Regions from separate parts of the Homo sapiens genome. Here all the other regions are linked to region 6. Evidence: fine-mapped expression QTL. A gene starts in region 6. Each other region holds a variant in brackets. All regions are shown on one strand. Distances are from middle to middle. Region 1 holds the start of ZNF331 (zinc finger protein 331). Region 2 overlaps LOC122539214 (Zinc finger protein LOC122539214). Region 3 has its middle 42 kb from the start of ZNF611. Region 4 has its middle 22 kb from the start of ZNF611. Region 5 overlaps ZNF665 (zinc finger protein 665). Region 6 holds the start of ZNF83 (zinc finger protein 83). Region 7 holds the start of ZNF480 (zinc finger protein 480).

What was found.
Region 1: its variant is fine-mapped to the expression of ZNF83 in esophagus mucosa (GTEx, PIP 0.92).
Region 2: its variant is fine-mapped to the expression of ZNF83 in transverse colon (GTEx, PIP above 0.99).
Region 3: its variant is fine-mapped to the expression of ZNF83 in skeletal muscle (GTEx, PIP above 0.99).
Region 4: its variant is fine-mapped to the expression of ZNF83 in ovary (GTEx, PIP above 0.99).
Region 5: its variant is fine-mapped to the expression of ZNF83 in stomach (GTEx, PIP above 0.99).
Region 7: its variant is fine-mapped to the expression of ZNF83 in testis (GTEx, PIP 0.96).

What each region holds. Positions count from the first base shown.
Region 1 is chr19:53,534,996-53,539,062 of GRCh38, reverse strand. ZNF331 (zinc finger protein 331) reads right to left here and starts at 918. Exons shown (of 6, transcript NM_001079906.2): 1 at 767-918. RefSeq lists enhancers at 839-888, 674-1,190. The variant C/A (reference allele first, on the strand shown) is at 1,567.
Region 2 is chr19:52,670,417-52,674,483 of GRCh38, reverse strand. The region is part of intron 1 of LOC122539214 (Zinc finger protein LOC122539214); the gene reads left to right. It also overlaps a transcript of ZNF83 not described here. Among named protein-coding and RNA genes, the nearest start is that of ZNF83, 34 kb to the right of the region's middle. RefSeq lists enhancers at 1-474, 3,685-4,067. The variant G/A (reference allele first, on the strand shown) is at 1,816.
Region 3 is chr19:52,690,674-52,694,732 of GRCh38, reverse strand. No RefSeq gene overlaps it. Among named protein-coding and RNA genes, the nearest start is that of ZNF611, 42 kb to the left of the region's middle. RefSeq lists an enhancer at 838-1,373. The variant G/T (reference allele first, on the strand shown) is at 2,225.
Region 4 is chr19:52,755,478-52,759,544 of GRCh38, reverse strand. No RefSeq gene overlaps it. Among named protein-coding and RNA genes, the nearest start is that of ZNF611, 22 kb to the right of the region's middle. RefSeq lists an enhancer at 2,719-3,434. The variant C/T (reference allele first, on the strand shown) is at 2,168.
Region 5 is chr19:53,179,481-53,183,547 of GRCh38, reverse strand. It overlaps ZNF665 (zinc finger protein 665), which reads left to right. Exons shown (of 4, transcript NM_024733.5): 2 at 605-664. The coding sequence starts at 650. Among named protein-coding and RNA genes, the nearest start is that of ZNF665, 12 kb to the left of the region's middle. RefSeq lists an enhancer at 834-1,350. The variant G/A (reference allele first, on the strand shown) is at 2,086.
Region 6 is chr19:52,636,481-52,640,547 of GRCh38, reverse strand. ZNF83 (zinc finger protein 83) reads left to right here and starts at 2,193. Exons shown (of 3, transcript NM_018300.4): 1 at 2,193-2,236. It also overlaps the pseudogene LOC124904757. RefSeq lists a silencer at 1,946-2,145 and enhancers at 2,356-2,475, 2,229-2,746, 2,747-3,265.
Region 7 is chr19:52,296,744-52,300,810 of GRCh38, reverse strand. ZNF480 (zinc finger protein 480) reads right to left here and starts at 3,642. Exons shown (of 5, transcript NM_144684.4): 1 at 3,588-3,642; 2 at 327-417. The coding sequence starts at 398. RefSeq lists enhancers at 3,411-3,460, 3,531-3,580. The variant T/C (reference allele first, on the strand shown) is at 2,118.

The sequences.
Region 1 (4,067 bases), 900 kb before region 6:
CCCACATCAGGGACCTGTCCCTCTACAGGAGGAATTCTACTCCTGAGGCCACCGTCCCCTGTCACTCAGGTGGCCTGCATGCACAGCACTTCTGGCTCTGAAAGCGTCACCTCATGGCTGTTTCTGCCTTCTTGCTGGTGAATTTCCAGGCGAGGCTCAGGCGCTCACGTCCCTCCGCGGCCCTTGTTCTCAGGCAGGTACCGCTTGGTTAGGAGGTGAAGGCAGGGGAAGCAGCAGAGACGCTGGAGCTACAAGTTGCACTGTCACACACACCTGCATCACTCAGAAGGCCCGATCATCCATCCCAGCACAGAGACGCTGAAGCTACAGGTTGTGTTGTCACACACACCTGCGTCACCCAGAAGGCCCGATCACCCATCCCAGCACAAGTCTGCACAGCTCAGCCTCACCACAGCTCACTCTGTCCTGAGACACATCTGCGCCCCTCATACCCACTAACGCCCAGCACGGCCATGCTACGGGCCCCACCACCCCACACGGTGCAGAGGTGCATCCGTGGGCCACGGAGACCCGTCCCGACCGCTGCCCCCGCACAACCCCCAGAGCGCACCTCACGGAGCAGAGTCCCAGGGACGCACCGCCGAGGTTCACAGGCACGGGCTGCGTTGACCCAAAGCCTCTGGAGCACCCCCGGTCACCAGTTATGGGGAGAGCCCGGCTGTGTCACCCCACACTCTCCAGCAAGTGCGTCACCGTCAGAAGCCCCGTGCCCGTCTCCCCTCGGAGCCACGCGCACCAATCTCACCTGCGCGGACTGGCGGAGATGCAGCGGCTGCGTCACTGGTGCAAACGCGCACCCAGCACGGCCCCCATCGCCCCCAATGACGCTCGCGTGCACCCGTGTCACAGTTACGGGGACAGGGCCGCCGCGTCAGCCTCGTACTCCCACGCAAGTGCGTCACACACTCGGTCCCGCCACCCCCTGGAGGCCAGCGCGCATGCGCACGCGCACCCAGCGGCCGCAGCGCGCAGACAGCAGCAGAGCCCGACACGCATGTGCACACAGACCCCTACACGTATGTGCACGTACCCAGACCCCGACACGTATGTGAGCGTACACAGACCCCCGATACATAGCGTGCTCAGCTGTTGACGTGCCTGTGCGGGCACACAGACCCTGACGGGCGTGTGCGCACGCACAGATGCCGACACGCATGTGCAGACACAACAGAGCCCGACACACACGTGCGCCTGCACAGATGCTGACACGCGGACACACTGACACGTGTGCGTGCACCCCTCCCATCCCTTTCCCTCCTCCCACTCTCCCAAAGCCGCAGACGCACCCGGTAGTCCCCCAACGCTGGGGCCTCGGGAGAGGGTGAGGCTAGAAGAGGACGCGGGGCCGTCGGGGGAAACCAGAGCCCCAAGCCCCGTGTTCCAGCATGCAGCACGGCGTACTCCTGGATGGTCTCTGGGAAATGTAGTCCGGGACGGTCCCAGGCAGGGGCCTCAGGGCGCGTCCCAGGTCGGTGCCGGAGCGGGCAGCCCCAAGCTAAGCCCTTCCTGGTCCCTGCAGACGCCCCTTCCCGACTGGGAAAGGAG[C/A]TGTGTCACCCCAGCTGGGACCCCGTCTGGCCTCTTGAGTGGGGTGATGCCGGGCGAGCCATGGCTGTCCTCAGAAGGGTATCCTCTCCTAGCCCCTCTGGAGCGTCACCTGGAATTCTCTGCAGGCCGCTAGCACAGGCTGCCGGAGCTGCTATTCGGTGTCCCTTGCTTGCTGCATTGTAAACAATGTACAGGTAGCAGTTATGCCCCGTGAGTCCCGCTCTCATTCCAAGTACTAACGTCACAGGGTCTACAGGATGTTGCAGGTACTTAACCACAGTCTCATTTTGACTCAAAATCCCACTTTTTGGTATTTATGCCAAGGAAGTAGCTATAGTTGTACACAATGTTGAAGTATGTTCACAAAATGCTTTTTTTCTGAAAATCTTTTTCTCTTTTAATTAGATAGACTTTAGATTCATATGTAGTTACAAGAAATAAAATTGAGAGATCTTGTGTACCTTTCACCTGGTTACCTCAGCTGGTGATTGTAGTATATAATACCACAACCAGAAGATTAACATTGATGTAATCCACTGACGTTACCCAGAATTTCCAGAGAATAATTTTTTGTTTGTTTGTTTGTTTGTTTTGAGACGGAGTTTCGCTCTTGTTGCCCAGGCTCAAGTGCAATGGTGCGATCTCGGCTCACTGCAACCTCCGCCTCCTGGGTTCAAGGGGTTCTCCTGCGTCAGCCTCCCCAGTAGCTGGGATGACAGGCATGCGCTACCACGCCCGGCTAATTTTTTTTGTATTTTTAGAAGAGACGGGGTTTCTCTATGTTGGTCAGGCTGGACTCGAACTCCCGACCTCAGGTGATCCGCCTGCCTCGGCCTCACAAAGTGCAGGAATTACAGGCGTGAGCCACCACACCCAGTCGAGAATAATTTTTAAAAATGAAAATCTTGCAGTGGAGGATAAAGGAAAATCAGATTAAACCATGGTCTGTTATACAATGACATAGAGTACATTTCCTAATAATACTGACTCATTAATTAAGAAAACTTCTGAAGAATCAACAAGGGAAAAGGGTAGGTTAAAATGGTACATATAATTTGAGCAGACATGTTTTGGTGAAATTAACACAGGCTCTGTGGTCTGATTTGAGGGTGTTAATCTGAGCTCTGATAGTTATTAACTTCACAGTGTGGTAAAGTTTCCTCACTGGTAAAACCACAAGAAAGATAGTACAATGTATGACTGTTTGAACAGGATCATCCACATGAAACACACAGTCATATATAACAATTAAGATAAGGTAGCTGTTATTACTAAAAAATCAGTAACATATCTCAATCCATTTTCATAAAAGTAACAAGTCTGCTATTTCCTTTTAACTAGGGAGACAGAGACATGATAGTTCCTTAAAAAATCTAGTTTAAAGATTCTTATCAGCTAGGTGCAGTGGCTCACACCTGTAATCCCAGCACTTTGGGAAGCCAAGGTGAGCGGATCACTTGAGGTCAGAAGTTCAAGACCAACCTGGGCAACATGGTGAAACCCTGTCTCTACTGAAAATACAAAAATTAGCCGGGCATGGTGGTGAGATTGTAATCTCAGTTTCTCAGGAGGCTGAGTCAGGAGATTCGCTTGAACCTGGGAGGCAGAGGTTGTAGTGAGCCAAGATTGCGCCACTGCACTCCAGCCTGGGTGACAGAGTAAGACTTCATCTCAAAAAAGAAAAAAAAAAAAAAAGTGAACATTTTAAACTAGTGCTATCTCATTCTATTTCATATACCTTTGAAATGTTACAGTCAATATTCGTTACTTGCACATATAACCTTGGGAATATTTCCAAAGTCCATATTTGTAAGGTATCCAGTGACTATTTTCATATTCATCAATGATTAATTTTTCAAAGCAAGGAAACATGACTGGTATCTCTCTTCTCTCCACATGCACACAGACATAATGTGACCCGTGGTTGGGCTGGATTTCTTTTACAAACTATGATTTGGAGAGTTTTTGCCTCATTTACATGATTAATAGGATTCAATGTTCCAGAAACAAAACACACACATGCTTAGAGGTGGAGGGGAAGACAGTAAACATACATACTAAGTGTTAACAGTAATTATCTTTAGATGGTATAAATATGGGTAATTACGGCCGGACAGTGGCTTACACCTGTAACCCCAGCACTTTGAGAGGCCAAGGCAGGTGGATCACTGGAGGCCAGGAGTTCGAGACCAGCCTTGGCCAACATGGCGAAACCCCATCTCTACTAAAAATACAAAAATTAGCTGAATGTGTGGCAGACACCTGTAATCCCAGCTACTCAGGAGGCTGAGGCAGATCTCTTGAACCCGGGAGGCAGAGGTTGCAGTGAGCCGAGCTTGTACCATTGCACTCCAGCCTGGGCAACAAAAGCAAGACTCTGTCTTAATAAATAAATAGATAAATAAATAAATAAGGGTAATTTTTAGTTTCCTCTTTGTGTGCTTCTTAGGGGAATAATTTTTTTTTTTTTTTTTTTTTGGTTACAGGCTTTCATTAATCCC
Region 2 (4,067 bases), 34 kb before region 6:
ATTTTATTTATTTCTTTCTGATTTGGATGAGTTTGATTTCTTTTGCTATTTCATTGCTCTGGCTAGGACAGTCAGTATTGATTGAATAGAAAGGGTGAGAACGTTCTAGCATCATGTGAGATCCTACAGGAAAAGCATTCAATTTTTCCTGATTGGTTATTTCAGCTGTGGTCATTTCATGGATGGTCTTTTATATTGTTGAGGTAAATTTCCTTCTTTATTTTGTTTAGGGTTTCTATGATGACAGGATGGTCCTAAGTCTTCACACATCAGGGCCACAGCCCCAACCTCACAGGAAACAGGTGATCTTTTGAAAGGCTTAAGGCCCAAGAGTTCATTTGAGGGCTTTTTAACCTGTGGATTTGGTCTAGAGCCATATCAGAGGGTTGTGTCTGTGTGAGTGTGCAAATGTGTGGTGCTTTCCAAGTTCAGTTGACATTGGTAATTTTTTTTTTTTTTTTTTTTTTTGAGATGGAGTCTCACTCTGTTACCCAGGCTGCAGGGCAGTGGCATGATCTCGACTCACTGCGGCCTCCACCTCTCAGCTTCAACCAATTCTCCTGCCTCAGCCTCCCTAGTAGCTGGGATTACAGGCACACACCACCAGGCCCGGTTAATTTTTTGTATTTTTAGTAGAGATAGGGTTGCACCATGTTGACCAGGCTGGTCTCGAACTTTTGACCTGAGGTGATTGGCCCACCTCAGCCTCCCAAAGAGCCACTGCTCCTGGCCTAATAATTTTTTATTTATTTATTTTTTTGAGTTGGAGTCTCACTCTGTCACCCAGGCTAGAGTGCAGTTGCATGATCTCTGTCTCCAGAAAAAACAAAAAACAAAAAGATAATATTTGCATCGTTATTGGCTCATTTTTGATTACTTGGGAAAACAGCTTTCAAAAGCTTAAGGTTTTTAAATACATGTGACTTTCTATATTTTTTTTCTGATGTTCTGTTTATAGCATTTTGTGTGTGTGTGTGTGTGTGATGGAGTTACACTCTTCTTGTGTACCCTGGAGTGTAGTGGTGCGATCTCAGCTCACTGCAACCTCTGCCTTCTTGGCTCAAATGATTCTCCTGCCACAGCCTCCTGAATATCTGAGATTACAGGCATGCGCCATCACCCTCGGCTAATTTTGTATTTTTTTAGAGACAGGGTTATACCATGTTGGTCAGGCTGGTCTCGAACTCTTGACCTCAGGGGATCCACCCATCTTGGCTCCCAAAGTGCTGGGATTCAAGCATGAGCCACTGTGCCCAGCCATTTGTTTAGTTTTTTGAGATGGAGTCCAGCTCTTTCGCACAGTCTGGAATGCAGTGGTGCAATCTCCACTCACTGCAACCTCTGCTCCCTGGGTTTAAGTGATTCTCATGCCTCAGTCTCCTGAGTAGCTGGGATTACAGGCTCACATCCAGTTTTTTTTGTATTTTTGGTAGAGACAGGGCTTATAGGTTTGAGCCACCACACCTGGCCATCCCCATTTTTATATGTACAATTTAATCATTGACTACAGTCATTCTGTTGTGTTATGAAATAATAGGTCTTATTCTATTTTTTGTACCCATTATCATGTTCTATTTATTAATTATTTCTGATTAAAATAAACTTTTTTGCCATGCACGGTGGCTCATGTCTGTAATCCCAGCACTTTGGAAGGTCAGGATTTGGAGACCAGCCTGGCCAACACGGTGAAACCCCGTCTCTACTAAAAATACAAAAATTAACCCAGCATGATGGCGAGCACCAATAATCCCAGCTACCTGGGAGGCTGAGGCAAGAGAATCATTTGAACCCAGGAGGCAGATGTTGCAGTGAGCC[G/A]AGACCGTGCCATTGCACCCCAGCCTAGGCAACAAGAACCAAACTCAATCTCAAAAATAAATAAGTAACTTAATTAATTTTTAAAACATAAAGATGAGGTGCTATGTTGCCTAGGCTGGACTCCAACTGTTGGGCACTAGCCATCCTCCTGCCTCAGCCTCCCATCATGCTCGGATTACAGGCACAAGCCACCATGCCTGACGACATTATGCTTTTTTAAACTTGCTAATATTCTAGATATGCTAATTTCCCTTCTAAATGTAATCATATTTTAGCTAATTACTAGTGTTTGATAGATGAATTCTTCCATAGCTAGGGATGTGGGAGAAAAACATAGTTCATAGTACATGTTAACTTACAGATATAGTCATAAAAGTATTACATGCAGAAATGAGGTGATTTATAATTTCATTTTATTTTTATTTTTATTTTTTTGAGACAGAATCTCACTCTTTTGCTCAGGCTGGAGAGCTGTGGTGAGATCTTTGCTCACTGCAACCTCTGCCTCCTGGATTCAAGAGATTCTCCTGCCTCAATCTCCTGAGTAGCTGAGATTACAGTTTTGTGCCACCTTACCCAGCTAATTGTTGTATTTTTAGTACAGATGGGGTTTCACCATGTTAGCCAGGCTAGTCTCAATCTCCTGACCTCTGGGTCATCCACCTGCCTCGACCTCCCAAAGTGCTGGGATTACAGGTGTGAGTCAATGTGCCCAGCCAATTTTATAACTTAGTTATATTTTTTCAGGGCCCAAGTAAAACGGAATAACTTGACTGCAATGTATTCTTAGTAATATTTCATGATCTTTCTCTATATGAAAATAAATCCTAACATTTAAAGACTGCATATTTTATAGCCTTTGTTATTCCCACCTGATAGAACACTCAGGAGAGAATAACAAAGAAAACACCTAAAATAGATTGCAATTGGATGGGTGTGGTGGCTTGCCTGTAACCCCAACACTTTGGGAAGCAAAGGTGGGTTGATCGCTTGAGTCCAGGAGTTGAAGGCTAGCCTGAGCATCATAGTGGGACCACCCCTCTACAAAGTACTAACAAATTAGCCAGGCTTGGTGGTGAGGGCCTGCAGCTCCAGCTAGTTGGGAGGTGTGGCGGGAGGATTGCTTGAGCACCAGAGGTTGAGGGTGCAAGGAGCAGTGTTCCTGCCACTGCATTCCAGCCGGGGTGACAGAACTAGGTCCTGTCTGAAGGAAAAAAAAAAAGTACAACTTGAAGATAAAAGGTACATTTTCTAATTTTTTCAGAAGGCACATAGAGTGAATTTAATATTACAATACATTTATAAATTATTGATGTTAGCATATTATGTTGTCAACAACATTTATCGTAAAAGTAGTTATATTGCAGGGAAGAACTGTAAAAAAAAGTATTTGAGAATGAGGTGTAAGCTCTGATTTTTTTATCTTGTCCAAATTCCTATGTAAAGAGTCTAGGGGGTCATGCCTTACAAACCACAAAACATATGGCAAAGAAGAAAGTCAAAATATTTGACCTCAAAACATGTTTCTGTGCCATATTTTGAAATGGTCCTTCAAAGGTATCGTTTGTGAGGGGTTCATGTGCGTCTGCAAAGAATCTCTGTTAACATAGCTAGATCTTTTTCTTCTAGGCCCTACCAATCCTGAAGAGAATAACTAAAAATCTAACACCTTTTAAAGGTCTGAATAAAAAACATTCATCATCTATTTTCTCTGAAGGCAGCCAGCAGAGGACTTCAAAAGAACCTTGGTCTCCAACATCTTTTATCTTAACCTGAACATTTCCTCTCTATTGATCCCAGGTATTTAGACAAACTCAACCAATTCTAATCAGAAAATGTTTAAATTTACCTGTAGCCTGGAAGCTCCCACTTTGAGTTGTCCCACCTTTCTGAACAAAATTAATGCATCTTTTAAATGTATTTGATTGATGTCTAATGCCTCCCTAAAATGTCTAAGAAGAAGCTGTTCCCCATCACCTTGGACATATGTTCTCAGGACCTCCTGAGAGTTGTGTCATGGGCCATGATTATTCATATTTAGTGCAGAATAAATATTTTAAAATATTTTACAGAGTTTGACTCTTTTCCATGACAAATATAACTCATTTTAAGTGTGTTGTAAATAAAGTTTCGGTGCTGCAAAAGAAATAGCACCAAATATAAAATTTTCTTTTTTTCTTCTCAGAAAGGCAATTTACTTATATAGAAGGTTGTGCCCTCACAGAGGGAGCAATGGTGAGTGCGTACCTGAA
Region 3 (4,059 bases), 54 kb before region 6:
TGGCAAGCTACTGTCTTAAAATCCGAGCTCTCTGAGTGAACAATTTCTGTCCCTTTTAAGGGCTCACAACACTAAAGATTTCACATTAAAGGGTAGTGATTGATTTGAGCAAGCAGGGGGTATGTGACAGGGGGTGCATGCGCTGGTGGTCAGAGTGAAACAGAACAGAACAGGAGGTTTCACAATGTCCTTCCATACAATGTCTGGGATCTATAGATAACATCAGTTGCTAGGTCAGGGGTGGAATTTTAATTACTAGGTTTAGGCCAGGCAGGCCGAGGCCTGGTTTCAGGTCTGGTTTTAGGTCTGATGCCTGGCATCGGGATGCCTGCCTTTGGTTTCACTTCCTTGTTTTTTTCTTAAAACAGGTACTGAGTATAAAACAATATAAAACAATATGAGAGGGTCTCTCTCTCTTCCCTCATTTCCCCCCTTTGAGAGTCTCACTTTTTATTAGTGGGAATTCTCACTCTTATTTTTGCTGCTTATGTCTTTTTGTGCAACAGATTGATAGTGATTCATATAGTACACTTGTGCTGAAGCATTTTGGTGAACTAAAATAGCGATGAAGCTTTTTATCGTTTGAAGAAGTACAGGTAGCAAACAAGGCAGCAGTAAGCAGGTTTCTATTACTATAATAACTCCTATTATAAGAGTTTTAAATCCTCCTAGTGCTGGGAACTACTTTCTAAACATGGCATCAGGGTTGAATCCATGCTACACTTGTATGGGCACATGTGTCAGTTTTGTCTTTTTTTTTTTTTTTTTTTTTTGAGACGAAGTCTTGCTCTGTCGCCCAGGCTGGAGTACAGTGGGTTGATCTCGGCTCACTGCAAGCTCCGCCTCCCGGGTTCACGCCATTCTTCTGCCTCAGCCTCCGGAGTAGCTGGGACTACAGGCGCCCGCCACCACACCCTGCTAATTTGTTGTATTTTTAGTAGAGACGGGGATTCACCGTGTTAGCCAGGATGGTCTCGATCTCCTGACCTTGTGATCCACCCACCTCGGTCTCCCAAAGTGCTGGGATTACAGGCTTGAGCCACCATGCCCGGCCAGTTTTGTCATATTTTTAACTATGTCTTTAACTACTTGCCTTTGATTATCTATGTGTAGACAGTAAGTAGTAAGGATAAATTTCTTTTTTTTTTTTTTTTTGAGATGGAGTCTTGCTCTGTCGCCCAGGCTGGAGTGCAGTGGCATGATCTCAGCTCACCGCAAGCTCCACCTCCCAGGTTCATGCCATTCTTCTGCCTCAGCCTCCCGAGTAGCTGAGACTGCAGGTGCCCACCACCACGCCTGGCTAATTTTCTGTATTTTTTTTTTATAGTGGGATTACAAGCATAAGCCACCAGGCCTGGCCTATTTTATTATTATTATTATTATTATTTTTTGAGACAGTCCTGCTTTGTCGCCCAGGCTGGAGGGCAGTGGGGTGATCTCGGCTCACTGCAACCTCTGCCTCCCATGTTCAAGTGCTTCTCCTGTATCAGCCCCTAGAGTAGCTGGGACTACAGGAGCTCACCACCACACCCTGTTAATCTTTGTATTTTTAGTAGAGACAAGGTTTCACCACATTGGCCAGGTTGGTCTCCAAACTCCTGAGCTCAAGTGATCCACCCACCTTGTCCTCCCAAAGTCCTGGTGTGAGCCACCTCACCCATCCCCTCTTCACTAATTTTTAATTTACCTAATGAATTCTGATTTTGAACCCATGTATTGCGTTTTTTCATTTAGTTACTCTATTTTTAGCCCAAGAGTTTCTGTGTAGTTCTTCATAGTTTCTGTATGTTGGTTGACCTTTGAATTTTCTGCATGCATTGCTTTTATAGTTTCTTGAAGCTGTCTCTTATTTCAATGCATTTCCAACTTTTTGGTGGATGTGGGTAACGGGGTCTCACTATGTCCCCCAGGCTGGAGGGCAGTGGTGCGATCTTGAGTCACTTCAACCTCTGCTCTCCAGGGTCAAGCAATCCTCCCACCTCAGCCTGGTGAGTAACTGTGGATGTGTCCTCTCTAGGTTTTTGCTTCTCATCTCTGAACTGAAGTTGATTTAAGTGTGTGTGGATGTGGTCTGAAGTGTGCAGGAGAGATTAATGGAGAAGCCCAACATGGTGAAACCCAGTATCTACTAAAAACAGAAAACAATTAGCCAGGCGTGGTCGCACTGGCCTGTAATCGCAGCTACCTGGCTGACTGGGGCAGGAGAACTGCTTGAACCCGGGAG[G/T]TGGAGGTTGCAGTGAGCCGAGATAGTGCCAGTACACTCCAGCCTGGGTGACAGAGCTAGACGCTGTCTGAAAAAATGACAGCAACAACAAACAAACAACTAAAAAAAAAAAGGTTATTCTGTAAATAATTAGGAAGACTAAGCAGCCCCAGAGTTAAGACCTTTTGGCATCATTGTCCCTTCTTATGGAGTGATAAAGTAACCTTCCTTGAAGTGTATCAATCCATCACCAGTCAAGTTGCTGCACCCTAGGCACTGGTCTTGAATGGAAAATGTGATTCTGGTAAAGCTTCTCTGTCTTTTCCTATGTGTGTAAAATCTTAACGTCTCCACCTGAGAACGCTGATCCTATTCATTTGAAGTTGATGTTTCCAGGTGGCTATTTCCAAGCTTTGTGTTCAAACAAACTCTGCACTTAATCATATATTCTAAATTTTATTATTTACCTCTGACATCAGTGTCTGTCGTATTGTAGGAGTCTCACCAGAGAGGGCACCTGTCCCCATGTTGTGAAACTCACACTTGTCAAAAAGACATGGGTTAGGGTTTTTCCCCCTCCCTCGGGATGAAGCTAATTAGCTGACACAGATGGTCACCTCCATTACCAAGTAAAGCCAGGATGAAGTATGTGTGACCCAAGGGGTTGTCAAATCCCCTTCCCTGAGGACTGATTAGTGTTTATCTTGAAAACATGTGCTTAATGGGTTGTATAGAACAGTGACATTTCTTTCTCTCTTTTCAACCTCATAGCTGTTTGCCTCTATTTCCCATCACATTTGAGTCTAAGGTTCTTTATTAAAATGGTTTTTATTTATTTCTCTGTTGTCGTGGAGATAATTACCCATTTGGGGGAAGATTTTCTTTGTTTTCAATTATATTTTCTCAACGTTTAAACAGTAAAGAGCATTCCTTAGGCTATGCAAGGTAGCCCACGCCTGTAGTCCCAGCACTTTAGGAGGCCGAGGCAGGTAGATTACTTGAAGTTCGGAGTTTGAGACCAGCCTGGCCAACATGGTGAAAGCCCGCCTCTATCAAAAATACAAAAATTAGCCGGGCATGGTCGCTCGTGCCTCTAATACCAGTAATACTGTAATACTCCGGAGGCTGAGGCAGGAGAATCGCTTCAACCCAGGAGGCAGAGGTCGCAGTGAGCAGAGATCACGCCCCTTCACGCCAGCCTGGGCGACAGAGGGAGACTCCCTCAAAGAAAAAGAAAAGAAAAACGTGAAAAAAAAGTAATAGATTTCTTCCACAAATGTGCTGGAACAACTAACTGGATATCCACACGGAACAGAATAATGTTGGATCCCTATGTCACACCATCAAAAATTTTATTTAAAAAGGTTTAAAAAGCGAGAGAGAGAGAGAGAGAGAGAGACGGAGAGAGAGGGAGACAAGGAAGGTGGCCTTGCGGGAGGGGGTGTTACTTTGTCGCCCAGGCTGGCCTGGACCCCAGGGCTCAGCGATCTTCCTGCTCCTACTTCCTGAGTAGCTGGGACCTCAGGCTCCCGCCTTCGCGCCTGCACCCCTGCTGTGTTTAAGCAGCAGGTGGTGACCTCACTCCTCCCTGGCCTGAGCACTCCGTCCCGCACCCCAGGCAGTGGCTTTAGGGAAGTCTCTGAAGCTGAGCACAGGGCGGACCCTCCCTCCCTTGTGAATGGAGAATAGAAAGGGAGAGGAGTTCTGTTCTGTTCTGTGGGCCGTCAGCATGAAATCCTATGTTCCGCCCTGGCAGGGCTTTGCATTTCACATTCTAGTTTGCATCCCCGTTCCAGAAAATTCCAGGGCTTTTGAATCATGCCTCATACTTCCTGGCCGCTGTCGCCTCCCAAACC
Region 4 (4,067 bases), 120 kb before region 6:
GTATGTGCCTCCAGGCCCGGTTAATTTTTTTGTATTTTTAGTAGAGGTGGGGTTTCATCATGTTGGCCAGGGTGGCCTCAAACTCCTCACCTCAGGTTATCTGCCCACCTCAGCCTCCCAGAGTGCTGGGATTACAGGCACAAGCCACTGTGCTCAGCCCCACCAATTATTATTAAATAGATATTTTGATATTTAAACATCACGTGATGGATATATTTGTTTTCTAGTAAAACCCCGAGCAAAGCTGCAGCTTAGACCCTTTGCCATAAAGTATCTCCTTTCCCTGTCACGTCCTCCACCCTCCTTCCAACCTCACTGGGGAGCCGCTACTGGCAATTCTGTGTTAGGTGTCAAAGCAAGTCTCATACACGTGTATTTCTGCATCATTATGAGACTTTAAAAATAATTCTGTAGTAAATTAAAAAAATAAAACGTTTTATATTTATGTTTTTACTTTAGGATTGGGGCTACATGTGATGGTTTGTTACATAGGCAAACTCATGTCATTGAGGTTTGTTGTACAGATTATTCTATTGCTCCAGTATCAAGCCCAGTACCCAATAGTTTTTTTTTTCTTTTTTCTTTTTTTGACACTAAGTTTTGCACTTGTTTATTCAGGCTCGAGTGTGATGGCATGATCTCGGCTCACTGCAACCTCAGCCTCCTGGGTTCAAGCAAGTCTCCTGCCTCAGCCTCCCGAGTAGCTGGGATTACAAACACATGCCACCACCACACCTGGCTAATTTTTGTATTTTTAGTAGAGGCAGGGTTTCACCATGTTGGCCAGGCTGATGTTGAACTCCTGATGTCAGATGATCGAAGCCTCTCAGCCTCTCAAAGTGCTGGGATTACAGGTGTAAGCCACTGTGCCCAGCCCCCAATAGCTATTTTTTCTAGTCTTCTCCTTCCTCCCACTCTCTACCCTCAAGTAGACCCCAGCGTCTGTTGTTTTCTTCTTTGTGTTTTAGTAAATATTTTACTTTGATATTTGATCCTGCTAGTTGCGAAAATTTACATGTTGTCAAGTTAGTAAACATGGCTAGCTTGCTCTTTGACATCTGCTTTGGAAATTGGCTGAATGACAACATGTGGATCCTTTGAGATTTTTCCTTGTATAAGGAGTGCCATAGTGGCTGCCTCTCCACATGCCTGCATTACTACAGATATCTGAAGCTTCCTCCAGGTCAGTCAGTTGAAAGGGTGATTGCTTCTTCTAGCATGGGGCATTTCCTGTTTTCTTAGATCTGACAAGATTCCCCCCTACCCCCAACTGCCAAAGTGTCATTTTCTAGCAAGATGAGATTCCTCTTCAGTTAAACAAATCTTGTTACTTTTTATATTTTTAAAATCTTTATATATATATATATATATATATATACATATATACACACACACACATACACATGCACATACATATACATGCATATTTACACACACATATGTATATATTTTGAAAATCTGCTGGGCATGGTGGCTCATGCCTGTAATCCTATCACTTTGGGAGGCCGAGGTGGGTGGATCACCTGAGGTCAGGAGTTCACAACAAGCCTGGCCAACATGGTGAAACCCCATCTTTACTAAAAATACAGAAGTTAGCCGGGCATGGTGGTGGGCACCGGTAATCCCAGCTACTCTGGCTGAGGCAGGAGAACCACTTGAACCCAGAAGGCAGAGGTTGCAGTGAGCCAAGATTGCATTACCGCACTGCAGCCTGGGCGACAGAACGAGACCCTGTCTAAAAAAAAAAAAGAAAGAAAAGAAAATCTGGGGAAAATGACAACTTTTTTTGTTAACATCTAGTTTCTTGTGAGTCTGTGTAGGTTTTATTATTTTGCGGACCTATATAAACAAAATGGATTTTCGTACTTTGAGTTATTCTGTTTTCATATATTTGATTTTATTTTGAGAGAAGGTCTCGCTGTGTTGCTTAGGCTGGAGCGCAGTGGCATGATCTTAGCTCACTGCAACCTCCTTCAGGCTCAAGCCATCCCCAAGCCTCAGCCTCCCAAGTAGCTGGGACCACAGGTGCGTACCACCATGGCTGGTTAATTTTTTTTTTTTTGAGATGGAGTCTTGCTCTGTAGCCAAGCTGGAGTGCAGTGGCGTGATCTCGACTCACTGCAACCTCTGCCTCCCAGGTTCAAGCGATTCTCCTACCTCAGGCTCC[C/T]GAGTAGGTGAGACTACAGTTGAGTGCCACAACGCCCGGATAATTTTTTGGTATTTTCAGTAGAGACAGAATTTCACCTTGTTAGCCAGGACTGTCTGGATTTCCTAACCTCGTGATCCGCCCGCCTTTGCCTTTCTAAGTGCTGGGATTCCAGGCTGGTCTTGAACTCCTGTCCTCAGGTGATCTGCCTGCTTCAGCCTCATAGAGTGCTGAGATTACAGGCACGAGCCACCGTGCTCAGCCCCACCAATTATTATTAAATATATATTGTGATATTTAAACATCACATGATGTATGTATTTGTTTTGTGGTAACGCTCCAAGCAAAGCTGCAGCTTAGGCCCTTGTCCATAAAGCATCTCCTTTCCCTGTCACTTCCCTGTCACGTCCTCCACCCTCCTTCCAGCCTCCCTGGGGAGCCACTACTGTCAGTTCTGTGCCAGGTGTCAGAACAAGTCTTGTACACATGTATTTCTGCATCATTATGAGACTTTGGGAAATATTCTGCAGTAAATTTCACTCCCGTCTGTGAGAAGAGACCACCAAACAGGCTTTGTGTGATCAACAAGTCTGTTTATTTCACCTGGGTGCAGGCAGGCTGAGTCCAAAAAGAGAATCAGCGAGAGTGATAGGGGTGGGGCTGTTTTATAGGATTTGGGTACATAAAGGAAAATTACAGTCAAAGGGGGTTGTTCTCTTGAGGGCAGGGCCGGGGGTCACAAAGTGCTCAGTGGGGGAGCTTTTGAGCCAGGCTGAGCCAGGAGAAGGAATTTCACAAAGTAATGTCATCAGTTAAGGCAGGAACAGGCCATTTTCACTCCTTTTGTGATTCTTCAGTTACCTCAGGCCATCTGGATGTGTACCTGCAGGTCACAGGCTATATGATGGCTTAACTTGGGCTCAGAGGCCTGACATTCCTGTCTTCTTATAATAAATAAAAAATAAAACAAAATAGTGTTGAAGTCTTGGGGCGGCGAAAATTTTTGGGGGTGGTATGGAAAGAGAATGGGCGATGTTTCTCAGGGCTGCTTTGAGCAGGATTAGGGGCGGCGTGGGAACCTAGAGTGGGAGAGATTAAGCTGAAGGAAGATTTTGTGGTAAGGGGTGATATTGTGGGGTTGGTAGAAGAAACATTTGTCATATAGAATTATTGGTGATGGCCTGGATATGGTTTTGTATGAATTGAAAAACTAAACAGAATAAGAGAAGGAGAAAAACAGGTATTAAAAGACTAAGAATTGGGAGGACCCAGGACATCCAATTAGAGAGTGCCTAAGGAGGTTCAGCATAGCCTTGCCAGCAAAGATTATTTATTTACTTTAAGAGTTAAGAGTGGTGGTTTGGGGATAGCACCAGGAGATACCAGCTGTGATGGCTTGGAGAAACAGTGTAAACTGGCAGTGTAAAGAAGAGCAGGGCATTTATGAGTAGTTGACAAGGGTGAATAGGAGTATGACTAGATAGAAGATAGGGATGACAAGTTTTTTGGGGCACAGTCCAAGTTGCTCTGGTGTCTGGAATGATACTGGGGCCTAATAAAAAGGAGCATTCACACAGGAGCTCAAATGGGCTGTACCCCGTAGCATTTCAAGGACAGGCCCTAATTCTGAGAAGCGAAAGTGGTAAAAGTATTGTCCAGTCCTTTTTAAGTTGGTGGCTGAGCTTGGTAAGGTGTGTTTTTAAAAGACCATTAGTCCATTCTGCCTTTTCTGAAGATTGAGGACGGTAAAGAGTATGAAGGTTCCTCTGAATACCAAGAGCCTGAGAAACTGCTTGGGTGATTTGCCTAATAAAGGCTGGTCCGTTATCGGACTGTATAGAGGTGGGAAGGCCAAACTTGTTGGGAGCAAGCCCCCCAAAAACAAAATCTCTGTAGCAGTGTAACAGGTTCATAATGGCCC
Region 5 (4,067 bases), 540 kb before region 6:
CCAGGGAAAGTACAGCCAGAAGGTGGGGGGGCTGTGCTGGGCTCGGCCCCTCTCAGTGGAGCTCAAGAATGCTGAGGCATTTTGCAAATACATCTCTTACGCCCCCTTAGCAGAGATTTTCATTCAGATAAGTTGCAGCCCAGCTTCAGTGACATTTAAGATTTGTTCTGTTCTGTTATTCTGTATCTACTATTGAGCACCAGGGCACTGCTGATCATTTCTGAAGGCTGAGATCAGCCTATGACTCACAGAGGGGAGAGGGACTGTGCTCAGCATGGGGTTTGGTCAGGGCTGGGTCTGTGCCCCGAACAGAAGCTCATTCCAGCCCAGCTCCCCACTGCTGCAGCCTGTGTGGGGGCTTCTCCAGGAGGGGAGTGGGTTCTAAAGAAAGAGGTCAGAAACTCACTTGTTTTTCCTGTAGGAGTTTCTCATCCCTGCATCTTTTCTGGTGCAGTGGGCAGCAGAGGACCATCTTCCCTGTGTATAAGGTCTTCCCTGTGTATAAGGTTATGGCCCAGGGAGGGGGTGTGTTGATTCTAACCAACAAACAGCGTATTTTTGACATTCAGGATTGAATTCTAAAGTCTCTTTCATGTTACCCAAGGTAGAACCCTGGAAGAAGAGGAAGAGGAAGGCAAAGGAGTCAGGGATGGCTCTTCCTCAGGTGAGATGATATTCTCGGTGGATTGTTCTGTCTCCTTCCTTTCAGAAACCTTGGACCTTGGAGTTGGGAATCTTCTCTGAGTCTGAAGCATCCTGCCTGACAGGTTTGCTCGCACTCACTCGTGCCTTCCCTCAGTCCCTCTCATCTCACTTAGATTCCATCTCTGGTGACCCAGTGACATGAACTTGGGAAGAGGCTGCACGGGGCATGGACCTGGGAAGGGCTCACACCCCGACATGGATGGAGACGGGGTGAGGGTCCCGTGGTGTCAGTGCTGTTGGGCAACAGGGATTGTTCAGGACATATTTGAATATATTGACAGCTCTGTGTAAACTGTGATAAGAGAAGCTGGTTATGAAGTCAGATGTTAGTGTGTACAAGCACCCACGAAATGCTGTAAAATGAGACGACTGTGGGGAAAGCTTTGTCACCTCATTTATATTTGCATTTGATGCCGAACAAGTGAGTCACTGTGTTTCTGACTCCAAACTCCTTTTTTTTGTTGTTTTTGTTGAGACAGAGTCTCGCTCTGTCGCCTAGGCTGGAGTGCAGTGACGCGATCTCAGCTCACTGCAACCTCCGCCTCCTGGGCTCAAGTGATTCTCTGGCCATGGCCCCCTGCGTAGCTGGGACTACAGGCATGCATCACCATGCCCGGCTATTTTTTTTTGTATTTTTAATAGAGATGGTGTTTCACCGTGTTGCCCAGGCCGGTCTCCAATTCGTGAGCTCAAGCGATCCACCCGCCTCGGCCTCCCAAAGTGCTGGGATTACAGGCGTGAACTACCGCGCCCGGCCTTCATTACTTATATTCAACCAAGAGAGAAACTTATCCCTCAGGCAGCGCCCTGAAAAGACAGAATATTGGATGAATGTTTTCATACTTTTCCTCTCCCAGGAGAAATGGGAAATTGGTGTTTTTCTTGCAGTGACACTGCATCATGCCAGGGTAAGGCCTCTGGGAGCAGATGTCCTGTATTTTCCTACTAGACTTCTGTTAAGAGTTCCAACCTCTTAAATGACCACTGGGTTTCTCACAAAGCAATTGGTTCATATATTGCTACTACATTTGTGTCTCCGTGGTGGAGGTAGTGTTTGGGAGTTCTAGTCCTCTATTTTATTGACATCATCACTTTAGTACAGTCTTATAATTTCTTTAAATAGGTCTGGAAACGTATTTTAATAGGTAGCATTGTATAATTCCTAATGTACTCGTGAGATGCATTGTGTGTTTGTGTCTAATGAGAGCTGCTAAAGAAAGAATGAAGATTGTTTTCACAGTATTGTTATTAGTTCTTAAACTTCAATGCATTCTTCTCCTGGGTTGTGAGTATGTCATCTGTTAGTTTTAACAGATCCAGCTCCTACTTTACCTTTTTCTTGGTCTCAGCTCAGGCATGCTCTGAAGTGGGCTTTAGCTG[G/A]AGCCTTGGTGAGCCCCCATTTTCTCCTTTTTTTTTTTTTCTGATACAAGGTCCGGCCCTGTCGCCCAGTCTGGAGTGCAGTGGTGCAATCTCGGCTCACTGCAACCTCCACCTCCTGGGCTCAAGCCAGCCTCCCATCTCAGCCTCTCAAGTAGCTGGGACTACACGTGCATGCCACCACACCCAGCTAATTTTTATATTTTTTGTAAAGATGGGGGTCTCACTATTTTGCCAAGGATCGTCTCGAATTCCTGAGCTCAAGCAATCCACCCGCCTTGGCCTCCCAAGGTGTTAGGATTACAGGCATGAGCCATCATGCCCAGCCCATTTTCTCCATTTTAATTTAGATCAAATGCATCCAGCATTTACTGCTTGATTATGATGTTTGGTGAAATTTTCTTGTTTAATATTAGCTTTTGGGTGTTTTTCAAATTTCCTTTTTGGACTGATTTTTAATTATCCAATAATTTCTTTGAGTAAGTATTGTTGCAATATGTACTTCTGAAATCTATTCATGTATGATATTAAAAAATGTCCTAATCTTAGGATTTCATGAGTAAAATAAACTAAAACCTCCATTGGGCTTTTGTTAATGCCTAAATATCTAAATTTAACTGGAAAAAAATGGTATCTGTACTTTTAATATTTGTATTTAATACCAATTGGAGTACAAGTTCTTACATATTTTTGTTTTAGCGTTTTTACAGCTTAATTTACAAAAATGTTTGTAAACTAAATCAAGTACAATTCATGCATTTCAGTTGTCCCAGACTTTCTGAAAAGCACATGAGCAAAAAAGACAACTAAAGATGTCATAAAAAAAAATACATCATTGAGACACATCTCCTTATTTCACTTAATTTAACTGGTATATGTGATGTGCACACATGAATATGTAGATGCATACACCCATGGTTTTATAAAAGACATACCATCATTTAAATAAATTGTATGTGTTTTATCATTTGAAATCATATTTTAAATATTTTCTGTGGCCTTAAATTTGTTCTCCACTGTCTTTTTTTTTTTTGAGATGGAGTTTCACTCTTTTGCCCAGGCTGGAGTGAAGGGGCGCAATCTCGGCTCACTGCAACCTCTGCTTCCTAGGTTCAAGCAATTCTCCTGCCTCAGCCTCCCGAGTAGCTGGGATTACAGGTGTCTGCCATCACACCTGGCTAATTTTTGTATTTTTAGTAGAGACGGGGTTTTACCATGTTAGCCAGGCTGGTCTCGAACTCCTGACCTCAGGTGATCCATCTAACTCGGCCTCCCAAAGTGCTGAGATTACAGGTGTGAGCCACCACACCCAGCCTGTTCTCTATTATCTATTAATGAACTAATAGGATAGTAATATATGGACATAAATGCGTTTGTGTATATAATGACCTTTGGTGAAATTCCATATTGTTAGCCTTGAACTTGTTTCAGTTTTTCTCAGTTAGGTGACCTCATGTTAATTTACTTTTGGTGCTGTTTAGGAAAAACAACTCAAAAACCATGTTTTCCTCTGCTCTCACACCAACACCACAATCCACACAGAAGACTTCTGTGGCCAAATGCGAGGGGTTTCTCCCCACCAACAAACAGCAAGCAACCAACTGGCTGTCCTCCAGTTCAGTTCCAACACTGTCTGCATGAAGATAGTGTCAGATCTCACAGATTGATGGCTCAGTTCCCAGTTGCATGTCCAGGCCTCTGAAACTTCTGACCGACCAACTTCAAGTTGAAGTTCCCATGAACCCTTCTTTGGGTTGGATTTATTTGCTGGAGCAACTCTTAGAGGTCAGAGAAACACTCAGTTTTACTGGTTGATTATAAATACTATTACAGAAGATACCAGTGAAGAGATGCATAAGGTGAGGTATGGGGAAAGGGGCGCAGAGCTTCCCTGCCCTCCCTGGGTATGCCGTCCTCCAGGAACCTCCACATGTCAGCCCTCTGGAAGCTCCCTGAACCCACTGCACTCCAGCCTGGGTGACAAA
Region 6 (4,067 bases):
AAAGAAAAACAAAAAAGAGTTTTCCTGTTAATAATTAGGAAGACTAAGCAGCCCCAGAGATAAGACCTCATGGGATCATTGTTACTTCTTATGGAGTGATAAAGTGACCTTCCTCGAATTGTATCAATCCATAACCAATCAAGTTGCTGCAACCTATGCACTGGGCTTGAATGAAAGCTGTCATGATTCTGCTAAAGATTCTCTGTCTTTCCCTGTGTGTGAAACCTTAACGTCTCTACTTTGGAACGCCGATCTCATTTATTTGGAGTTGGTGTTTCCAGGTGGCTTTCTTCAAGCTTTGTGTTCACATAAACTCAGTACTTAATCTTACATTCTAAATTTTATTATTTACTGCTGACGTCAGTTTCTGTCGGATTGTAGGCGCCTGACCAGAGAGGGCACGCGTCGCTATGTTGTAAAACTCACACTCGTCAAAAAGACATGGGTTAGGGTTTTCCCCCTCCCTCTGGATGAAGCTAATTAGCTGACACAGATGGTCACCTCCATTACCAAATAGAGCCAGGATGAACTATGTGTGACCAAGAGTGTTGTCAAGTCCTCTTCCCTGAGGACTGATTAGTGTTTATCTTGAAAACATGTACTCAATGGGTTGTATAGAACAGTGAAGTTTCCTTGTCTCTTTTCAACCTCTTAGCTGTTTGCCTCAATTTCCCATCACATTCTGGTTTAAGGCTTACTTATTAATAATGTGGTTTTTATTTCTTTCACTATTATCATCGTGAAGATGATTTCTCATTGGGGGGAAGATTTTTTTTGTTTTCCATTATATTTTCTCAAAATTTAAAGAGTAAAGAAATGAATATTTTTTGGGCCAGGAAGTGTGGCTTATGACTATAATCCCAGCACTTTCAGAGGCTGAGGCAGTCAGATCACTTGAAGTCAGAAGTTCGAGACCAGCCTAGCCAATATAGTGAAACCTCGTTTGTATCGAAAATACAAAAATTAGCCGGGCATGGTTGTGCGCGTCTGTAATGTCAACTACTCCGGAGGCTGAGACAGGAAAATCGGTTCAACCCAGGAGGCAGAGGCTGCAGTGAGCCCAGATCTCGCCACCGCATTCCAGCCTGGCCAAAAAAGAAAACTCTGCCTCAAAAAAAAAAAAAAAAAAAAATAGAAAAAACTAAATATATAAAAGAAAATAAGCCGGGCGCGGTGGCTCACACCTGTAATCCCAGCACTTTGGGAGGCCGAGGCGGGCGGATTACTTGAGGTCGGAAATTTGAGACCAACCTGACCAACATGGAGAAATCCCATCTCTACTAAAAATACAAAATTAGCAGGGCATGGTGGCACATCCCTGTGATCCCAGCTACTTGGGAGATAGAGGCATGAGAATCGATTGAACCTGGGAGACAGAGATCGCGCCATTGCACTCCAGCCTGGTCAACTAGAGCAAAACTCCATCTCAAGAAACAAAAAAAGAAACTGATAGATCTCTTACACAAATACGCTGGGACAACTAACTGGATATCCACGTGGAAAAGAATAATGTTGGATCCCTATGTAACATCATCAAAAATTTTATTATAAAAAAGAAAAGAGAGAGAGAGACGAGGAAGGGAGCCCTGCGGGAGGGGGTGTTACTTTGTCGCCCAGGCTGGCCTGAACTCCCAGGCTCGGCGATCCTCCCGCCGCTGCTTCCTGAATAGCTGGGACCTCAGGCTCCCACTCCCGCGCCCATATCCCAGCTGTGTTTAAGCCGCAGGTGGTGACCTCACCCATCCTTGGCCTGAGCACTCCATCCTGCATCTCAGGCAGTGGCCTGAGTCTCTAAAGCTGAGCACAGCGTGGACTCTCTCCCAAGTGAATGGAGAATAGAAAGGGAGAGGATTTCTATTCGGTTCTGTGGGCTATCAGCATGAAATTGTACCTTCCGCCCAGGCAGGGCTTTGCATTTCACATTCTAGTTTGCATCCCCGTTCCAGATAATTCCAGGGCTTTTGAATCATGCCTCAGCCTTCCTGGCCGGTCTCGCCTCCAAAACCCGAAAAATGCCTCTGCGCTGGGAACGATGCTGAGAGACTCACAGGTCCCGCCCTGGCCCCGCCCACTGCTGGTTCTAAAGGGGAAAGTCTCTCGGCTTCCCACCCCGCCCCTACCTCATCCAGGCCCCGCCCACCTCGCGGGCCCCGCCCAGACCTGGCTTCTGTACTGCGCGCGCACATGCGCGCAAACCCGGAAGCGGATTATGTGGAGTGAAAGTTACACCGTGGCGGTGAGTTTCGCTCTTCTATTAAGTCTGCGCTTACCAGGTCCCCGGCGCTGCTGTACCTGAGACGTGGGGTCCCCACAGACCTGGAAATTCTCTCCCTTCTTCCTTCACCCAGGACAAATTGAGACGTCCCCATGAGAGTCCGGATATCGCTTCCTTTTGGGTTTAAAGTCGCCCTGAGGCTGGGCTGTCCCCGGTCTTTCTGCTGTAGGGCGATGTATACACTTCCTGTCGCGTAGTTTTCCTGCTCAAAACTGTTTTCTGACTCCTCCCGCCCCTCGCTTTTTAAAGTCCTCACCCGAGAGCTGGATTCCCGCCCTGGGCGCCTCCCACCCTCGCCTTCGTAGGCCACTGGAGCGCAGCGCCAGGGCCCCAGTCCCAGGGAGGCCGCGTACTTTGCCTGGTCCTGGAATCCTGCAGACCCCAACCTTGTCTTAAGGCGCCGTCTCCCCCCCACCTCCCTCCTCGTGGCGGGCCCTGCTGCTCCACAGGTCTCTCCTCCACAGTCACCTCTTCCCCTGAACCCGCGTTGGGGAGGTACCCGGGGCCTGTCCTGTGACACGGGGTGTTCTTGCCTGCCCAGCTCCAGCCCCCGGAAAACGAGCTCCTCCGGGATGCAGGCGTCTTATCCAAACCCTCCTGTGATTGTGTCGGCCAAAGGCATTGGGAGACAGAGCAGTAGAAAAGCTGAGACAGAGAAAAGAATGAGAAAGACCCATAACAGAGGGCAAAGTAGAGGGTGGGTGATGGATTTGTCAAGAGACAGCAAAAGTGAAAAGAAAAAAAAAGAAAGCAGGAGGAGAAAAGTAACTGGAGAAACGTAGAGAAACCTAGATGTACAGAGAGATGAAGGACAGCAAGGTAGGGAGAGGGGCAGCAAAGAGGGAATCTCATCAGAGTGAGGGAGAGGAGGAGGGATTTGGAGCCAGGGCAGACAGAGCAGAGTGGTGCTGGTGGCAAGGAGAACAGAGGGAGAACCACAGCAGGGAGGACACCTGGGGATCTGTGGTTCCACATATTGGGGACAGGGGGTATAACAGGGAAGACGGAATTTAACAGGGAGAGCAGAGGATGCACAGAGATGGGAGAAGAGGCGGAAATATATCAAGATTGAGGACGATAGAACGATTGGGGAGAAGGAACAGCAAGAAGTTAGGTAAGTTGCGAGGATGGAGCAGAAGAGGTGGAAGAGAAGGAATAGAGGGAAGAAGGGGATAAACAGCAGGAGAGGAGAGGGGTACAAAATGAGGAGCAGAATGCCAGGTAAAAAGAAAAGAAAACAAGAGCTAGAGAGAGAAGGGGAGAATGAGAGATATGTACACAATTAGGGAGGGAAGCACAGTAATGAAGAAAGATGGGCTGGGCGCAGTGGCTTACGCCTGTAATCCCAGCACTTTAGGAGACTGAGGCAAGAAGATTGCTTGAGTACAGGAGTTCGAGTCTAGCTTGGGCAACATAGTGAGACCCCCATCTCTACCAAAAAAAAAAAAAAACAACCGGGCATGATAGTGTGCACCTGTAATCCCAGCTACTCTGAAGGCCGAGGCAGAAGGATCACTTGAACCCAGGAGGTCCAGGCTGCAGTGAGCCGAGATCATGTCACTGCACTCCAGCCTGGTCAACAGAGCAAGACCCTGTCTCAAAAGAAAAAAAGGGGCGGAGGACTTTGGGTTTAGATGAGTGGGTGAGTTCATTGGATACGATTAGTTGTGACATTTGACTTCTTTGTATATAATCTAGTAACTTAAAACTGCTTAAATTATACAGATGAGATTGAGAATTTTAAGAATCCTATCTATAAGACATGTACATTCTATGAATGTTGGCCTCAGAG
Region 7 (4,067 bases), 340 kb after region 6:
CTATAATCTATAGAAACAATGCTTATCAATGGCTTGCTGTCAATAAATATGTGGGTCAAACCCTGTTCGCAGCTCTCAGCTCTGAAGGCTGTTGGCCCCTGATCCCACTTTACACTCTATTCTTGTGTCTGTGTCTTTAATTCCTCTAGTGCCACTAGGTTAGGGTCCCCACGACCAAGCTGGTCTCGGCACTGAGGGAAGGCATAGGTAAGCGTGAGCAAACCTGTCAGGCAGGACACTTCAGACTCAGAGAAGACTCCCAACTCGAAGGCCCAGCGTTTCTGAAAGAAAGGAGACAGAACAATCCACCGAGAATATCATCTCACCTGAGGAAGAGCCATCCCTGACTCCTTTGCTTTCCTCTTCCTTCTCTTCTGGGCTTTTTCATCACACAGCATGACTCTTTAGAAGTCAATCCTAAATGTCAAAAATATGCTGTTTAGGGCTTAGAATCAACACACCCTTTTCCTGTGCCACAATCACACACACAGGTTAGACCTCACCCTGCGGAAAGATGTCCTCTGCTGCCCACTGCACCAGAGTTGATGCAGAGACAAGAAACTCCTACAGGAAGAACAACAAGTGAGTTTTTTACTCGTCTTCAGAACCTGCTCCCCTCCTAGAGATGCCCACACGCACGCTGCAGCAGTGGGGAGCTGGCCTGGTCTAAGCTCCCCTTCAGGGCCAGACCCAGCCCTGACCAAACCCCATGCAGAGCACAGCCCCTCCTCTCCTCTCTATGGATCCCAGGCTCATGTAATCCCTCAGAAATGGAGGACACAGAGCCTTGGTGCTCAGCACCAGAGACAGAACACACTGGAATCCCCGTATCCATGGGGAAGATGTCCCAAGACCCCCATTGGATGCCTGGAACTTCAAACAGTACTGAACTCCATTTATTCCACCCTGGCCAACATTGTGAAACCTCGTCTCTACTAAAAATACAAAAATTAGCTGGGCGTGGTGGCACACACCTATAATCCCAGCTACTTGGGAGGCTGAGGCAGGAGAAATGCTTGAAACTGGGAGATGGATGTTGCAGTGAGCTGAGATCATGCCATTGCACTCCAGCCTGGGCAACAAGAGTGAAACTCTGTCTCAAAACAAAACAAAAGAAAAAAAAAATCAGGGTATCCCAAAGCCCCTTCTTTTGATTAATTTGCTAGGAGGGTTCTTCCATCGGGCTAGTCATCTGTATCTTTTGCAATATTCTTCATAGCAAATGGGTAAAACTAAGCAAAATGCTTCCTTGAGTTCTGTGAATGAGGCTAACAAATTAATAAAATCTGAGCAAAGGGTCAAGGGAATCTTCAATTTTTAGATGTTTGGTTGAAGTTCAGGTCCCAACCAGGAACTTACAACCAGCACGTGAAGTAGCGGCAGCCTTGTGGAACTGAGCCCCCAACCTGTGGGATCTGATGCTAACTTCAAGTAGACAGTGTCAACTTGACTGAAATTACGGATCACCCAGGCGGTGTCTGACGAATTGCTTGTTGGTGGGAAGAAATCCCCACACATTTTGTTCATCAGATATGAAGCATTCTGTGTTGAGTGTTCACTATTGTGTTGACTGCAAGAGTAGGAAAAACACTTTGGTTTTCCTGCTATCTTTTACACTCGCCCACACCCTACCCCATCCCAGGAAAAGGAAAGTGGGTGACCCACACCTGAATGACTCAAGTCACTGACCTGTGCCTGAATAGGGAATGTGAGTGGAAGCTAAAGTCTGATGCCAAGAATTATAAAATGCACCAGCCTTACAGACAGGAGTTTTGCATATCCATTTTCATCTGTATTTTTAAAGTATATTTCATATTATCAAATTATAAATAGATAAATCAATGTCACAACTTAATCATAATATCCAATCAACTCACCGTTCATCTGCACCCAGGGTTCCCTCTTTTCTGGGTACTGTGTTTCCCTCCCTCATTCTGTACGTATCTCTCATTCTCACCTTCTTTCTCTAGCTTTTTTCCCCCTTTATTTTTCCCCTAAGATTCTGCTCATTTTGAGCCCCTCTCTTCTCCTGATGTTTCTCCCCTTCTTCCTTCTATTCCTTCTCTTCCACCTGTTCTGCTCCATTCTGGCAACTTGTTTCACCCCTCTTCCAAACT[T/C]TCTGCTCAATCTTTGATCATCCCATTCTCCACCTATTTGTCTCTTTTTTTTTTTTTTCCCTGAGACGGAGTTTTGCTCTTGTCGCCCAGCCTGGAGTGCAATGGCGCAATCTCAGCTCACTGCAACCTCCGCCTCCCGGGTTCAAGCAATTCTCCTGCCTCAGCCTCCTGAGTAGCTGGGATTACACGCGCGCGCTGACGCCCGGCTAATTTTTGCATTTTTAGTAGAGATGGGGTTTCACCATGTTGCCCACGCTGGTCTCAAACTCCTGACCTCACGTGATCCACCCACCTTGGCCTCCCAAAGTGCTGGGATTACAGGCGTGAGCCACTGTGCCCGGTCTTGCCTCTTCCCCTGACTCTACTCCCCCTCTGCTCTCTCTGTTAAATCCCTTCTTTTCTGTTACACCCCCTTGTCCCCACTCTCTGGCACCCTGAGATCCCAGGCCTCCACCTGCTGTGGTTCTCCCTCTGCTCTCGTTGTCACCAGCTGACTCCTCTTGCTGTCCCAGCACCACGCTGCTCTGTCTGCCCTGGCTCCAAATCCCTCCCCCTCTCCCCCACTCTCAAACTGAGGAACTTCCCACTTTGCTGCCCCTCTCACTATCTTGCTGTCCTTCATCTCTCCGGAGATGGAACTTTTCTCTGCATTTCTCCAGTTGCTTTTTTCCCCCTGCTACTTTCTCGGCTTCATTCGCTGTCTCTGCAAATCCTCCATCCACTCTCTACTTTGCCATCTGCTTACGGCTCTCCCTCAATCTTCTTTTCTCCTTCAAAATTTTTCTCTTTCTTCTCCCTCGCTCTCCGTCTCTCTTTCTGCACACATTCACATGGAAGGAATTGGGATCCGATGTCCACAAGCAGAACACCTTTTCAGTGGGGTGTTATTTGGCCCGCAAGAACACTGGATGTCAAGAGACAGAGTAAGTCACCTCCCCACACGCAGGGTTAGGAGAAGCGGTGTCTGGGAAGAGGAGGCCTGGGGAGTAGCGGGGCCCCGTATCAAGGAGGGTAAAGGTAGGGTCTGGATCAAGAGATGGGTGGCGTCTGCAGAATCCCAGCACTGGGCAGAAGACGCGGCTTCTCCTGGATTGAGATTGGAGCGCTGTGCTCCAGGGCCAACAAAGGCGAGGCTTGGGGGACCGCATAGACCGGAATCCGCCTAGCGGGGGAGGACTTTACGCTGTGCGGGGCGGATGTAAGCATCACTGAAGGACTTGAAACAGGAAAACTCCGCGACAGGAGGTGACTACATGGCCCTGTGGCAGAAGGACGGGGGACAGGACCCGCCGCCGAGCGATTTAAACACACAGGGAAGCGACCGCCTGACTCTCACGGAGACGCCTGAATTTGGTCGGGGTAGAGGGAGCGGTGCGAGGATTTCAAGGTCTGTGTGGCCCCTCAGATCCCGGGTACAGAAGCGCGGGGGAGTTGGGAAGCGCAGATTAATTTACACAAAGGGAAACTCACGCGCCGCGGCGTGACCTTCACTCCACGCGATCCGCTTCCGGGTTTGTGGGAAACTGCGCGCGCAGCGGAGGGGTCCGAGCGGGGCGGGGGCGGGGGCGGGGGCGGGGGCGGGGGCGGGGGCGGGGGCGGGGGCGGGGGCGGGGGCGGGGGCGGGGGCGGGGGCGGGGGCGGGGCGGAGTGGGGCTTGCGCTTCCCTCCGCCTCGCTTCCAGTGCCTCTGTTTTCCGGGTTTTGCCGGGGAGACCTGTCAAGGAGACTGGAGCAACTCAGCTGTCTCGGAACTGTACTCTTGCCGGGACTGAGCAAAGTCGGCTAATGATTAGATCCAGGAAAATTCCTGCTATTAAAGTTAATCTTAAGCCGACCGTGCGGTCGGGCACCTGTAGTCCCGGCTACCCCGAAGACTGAGGCGGGAGGATCGCTTGAGCCCAGGAGTTCGAGTTTACACTGAGTTATGACGGCCACTGCACTCCAGCTTGGG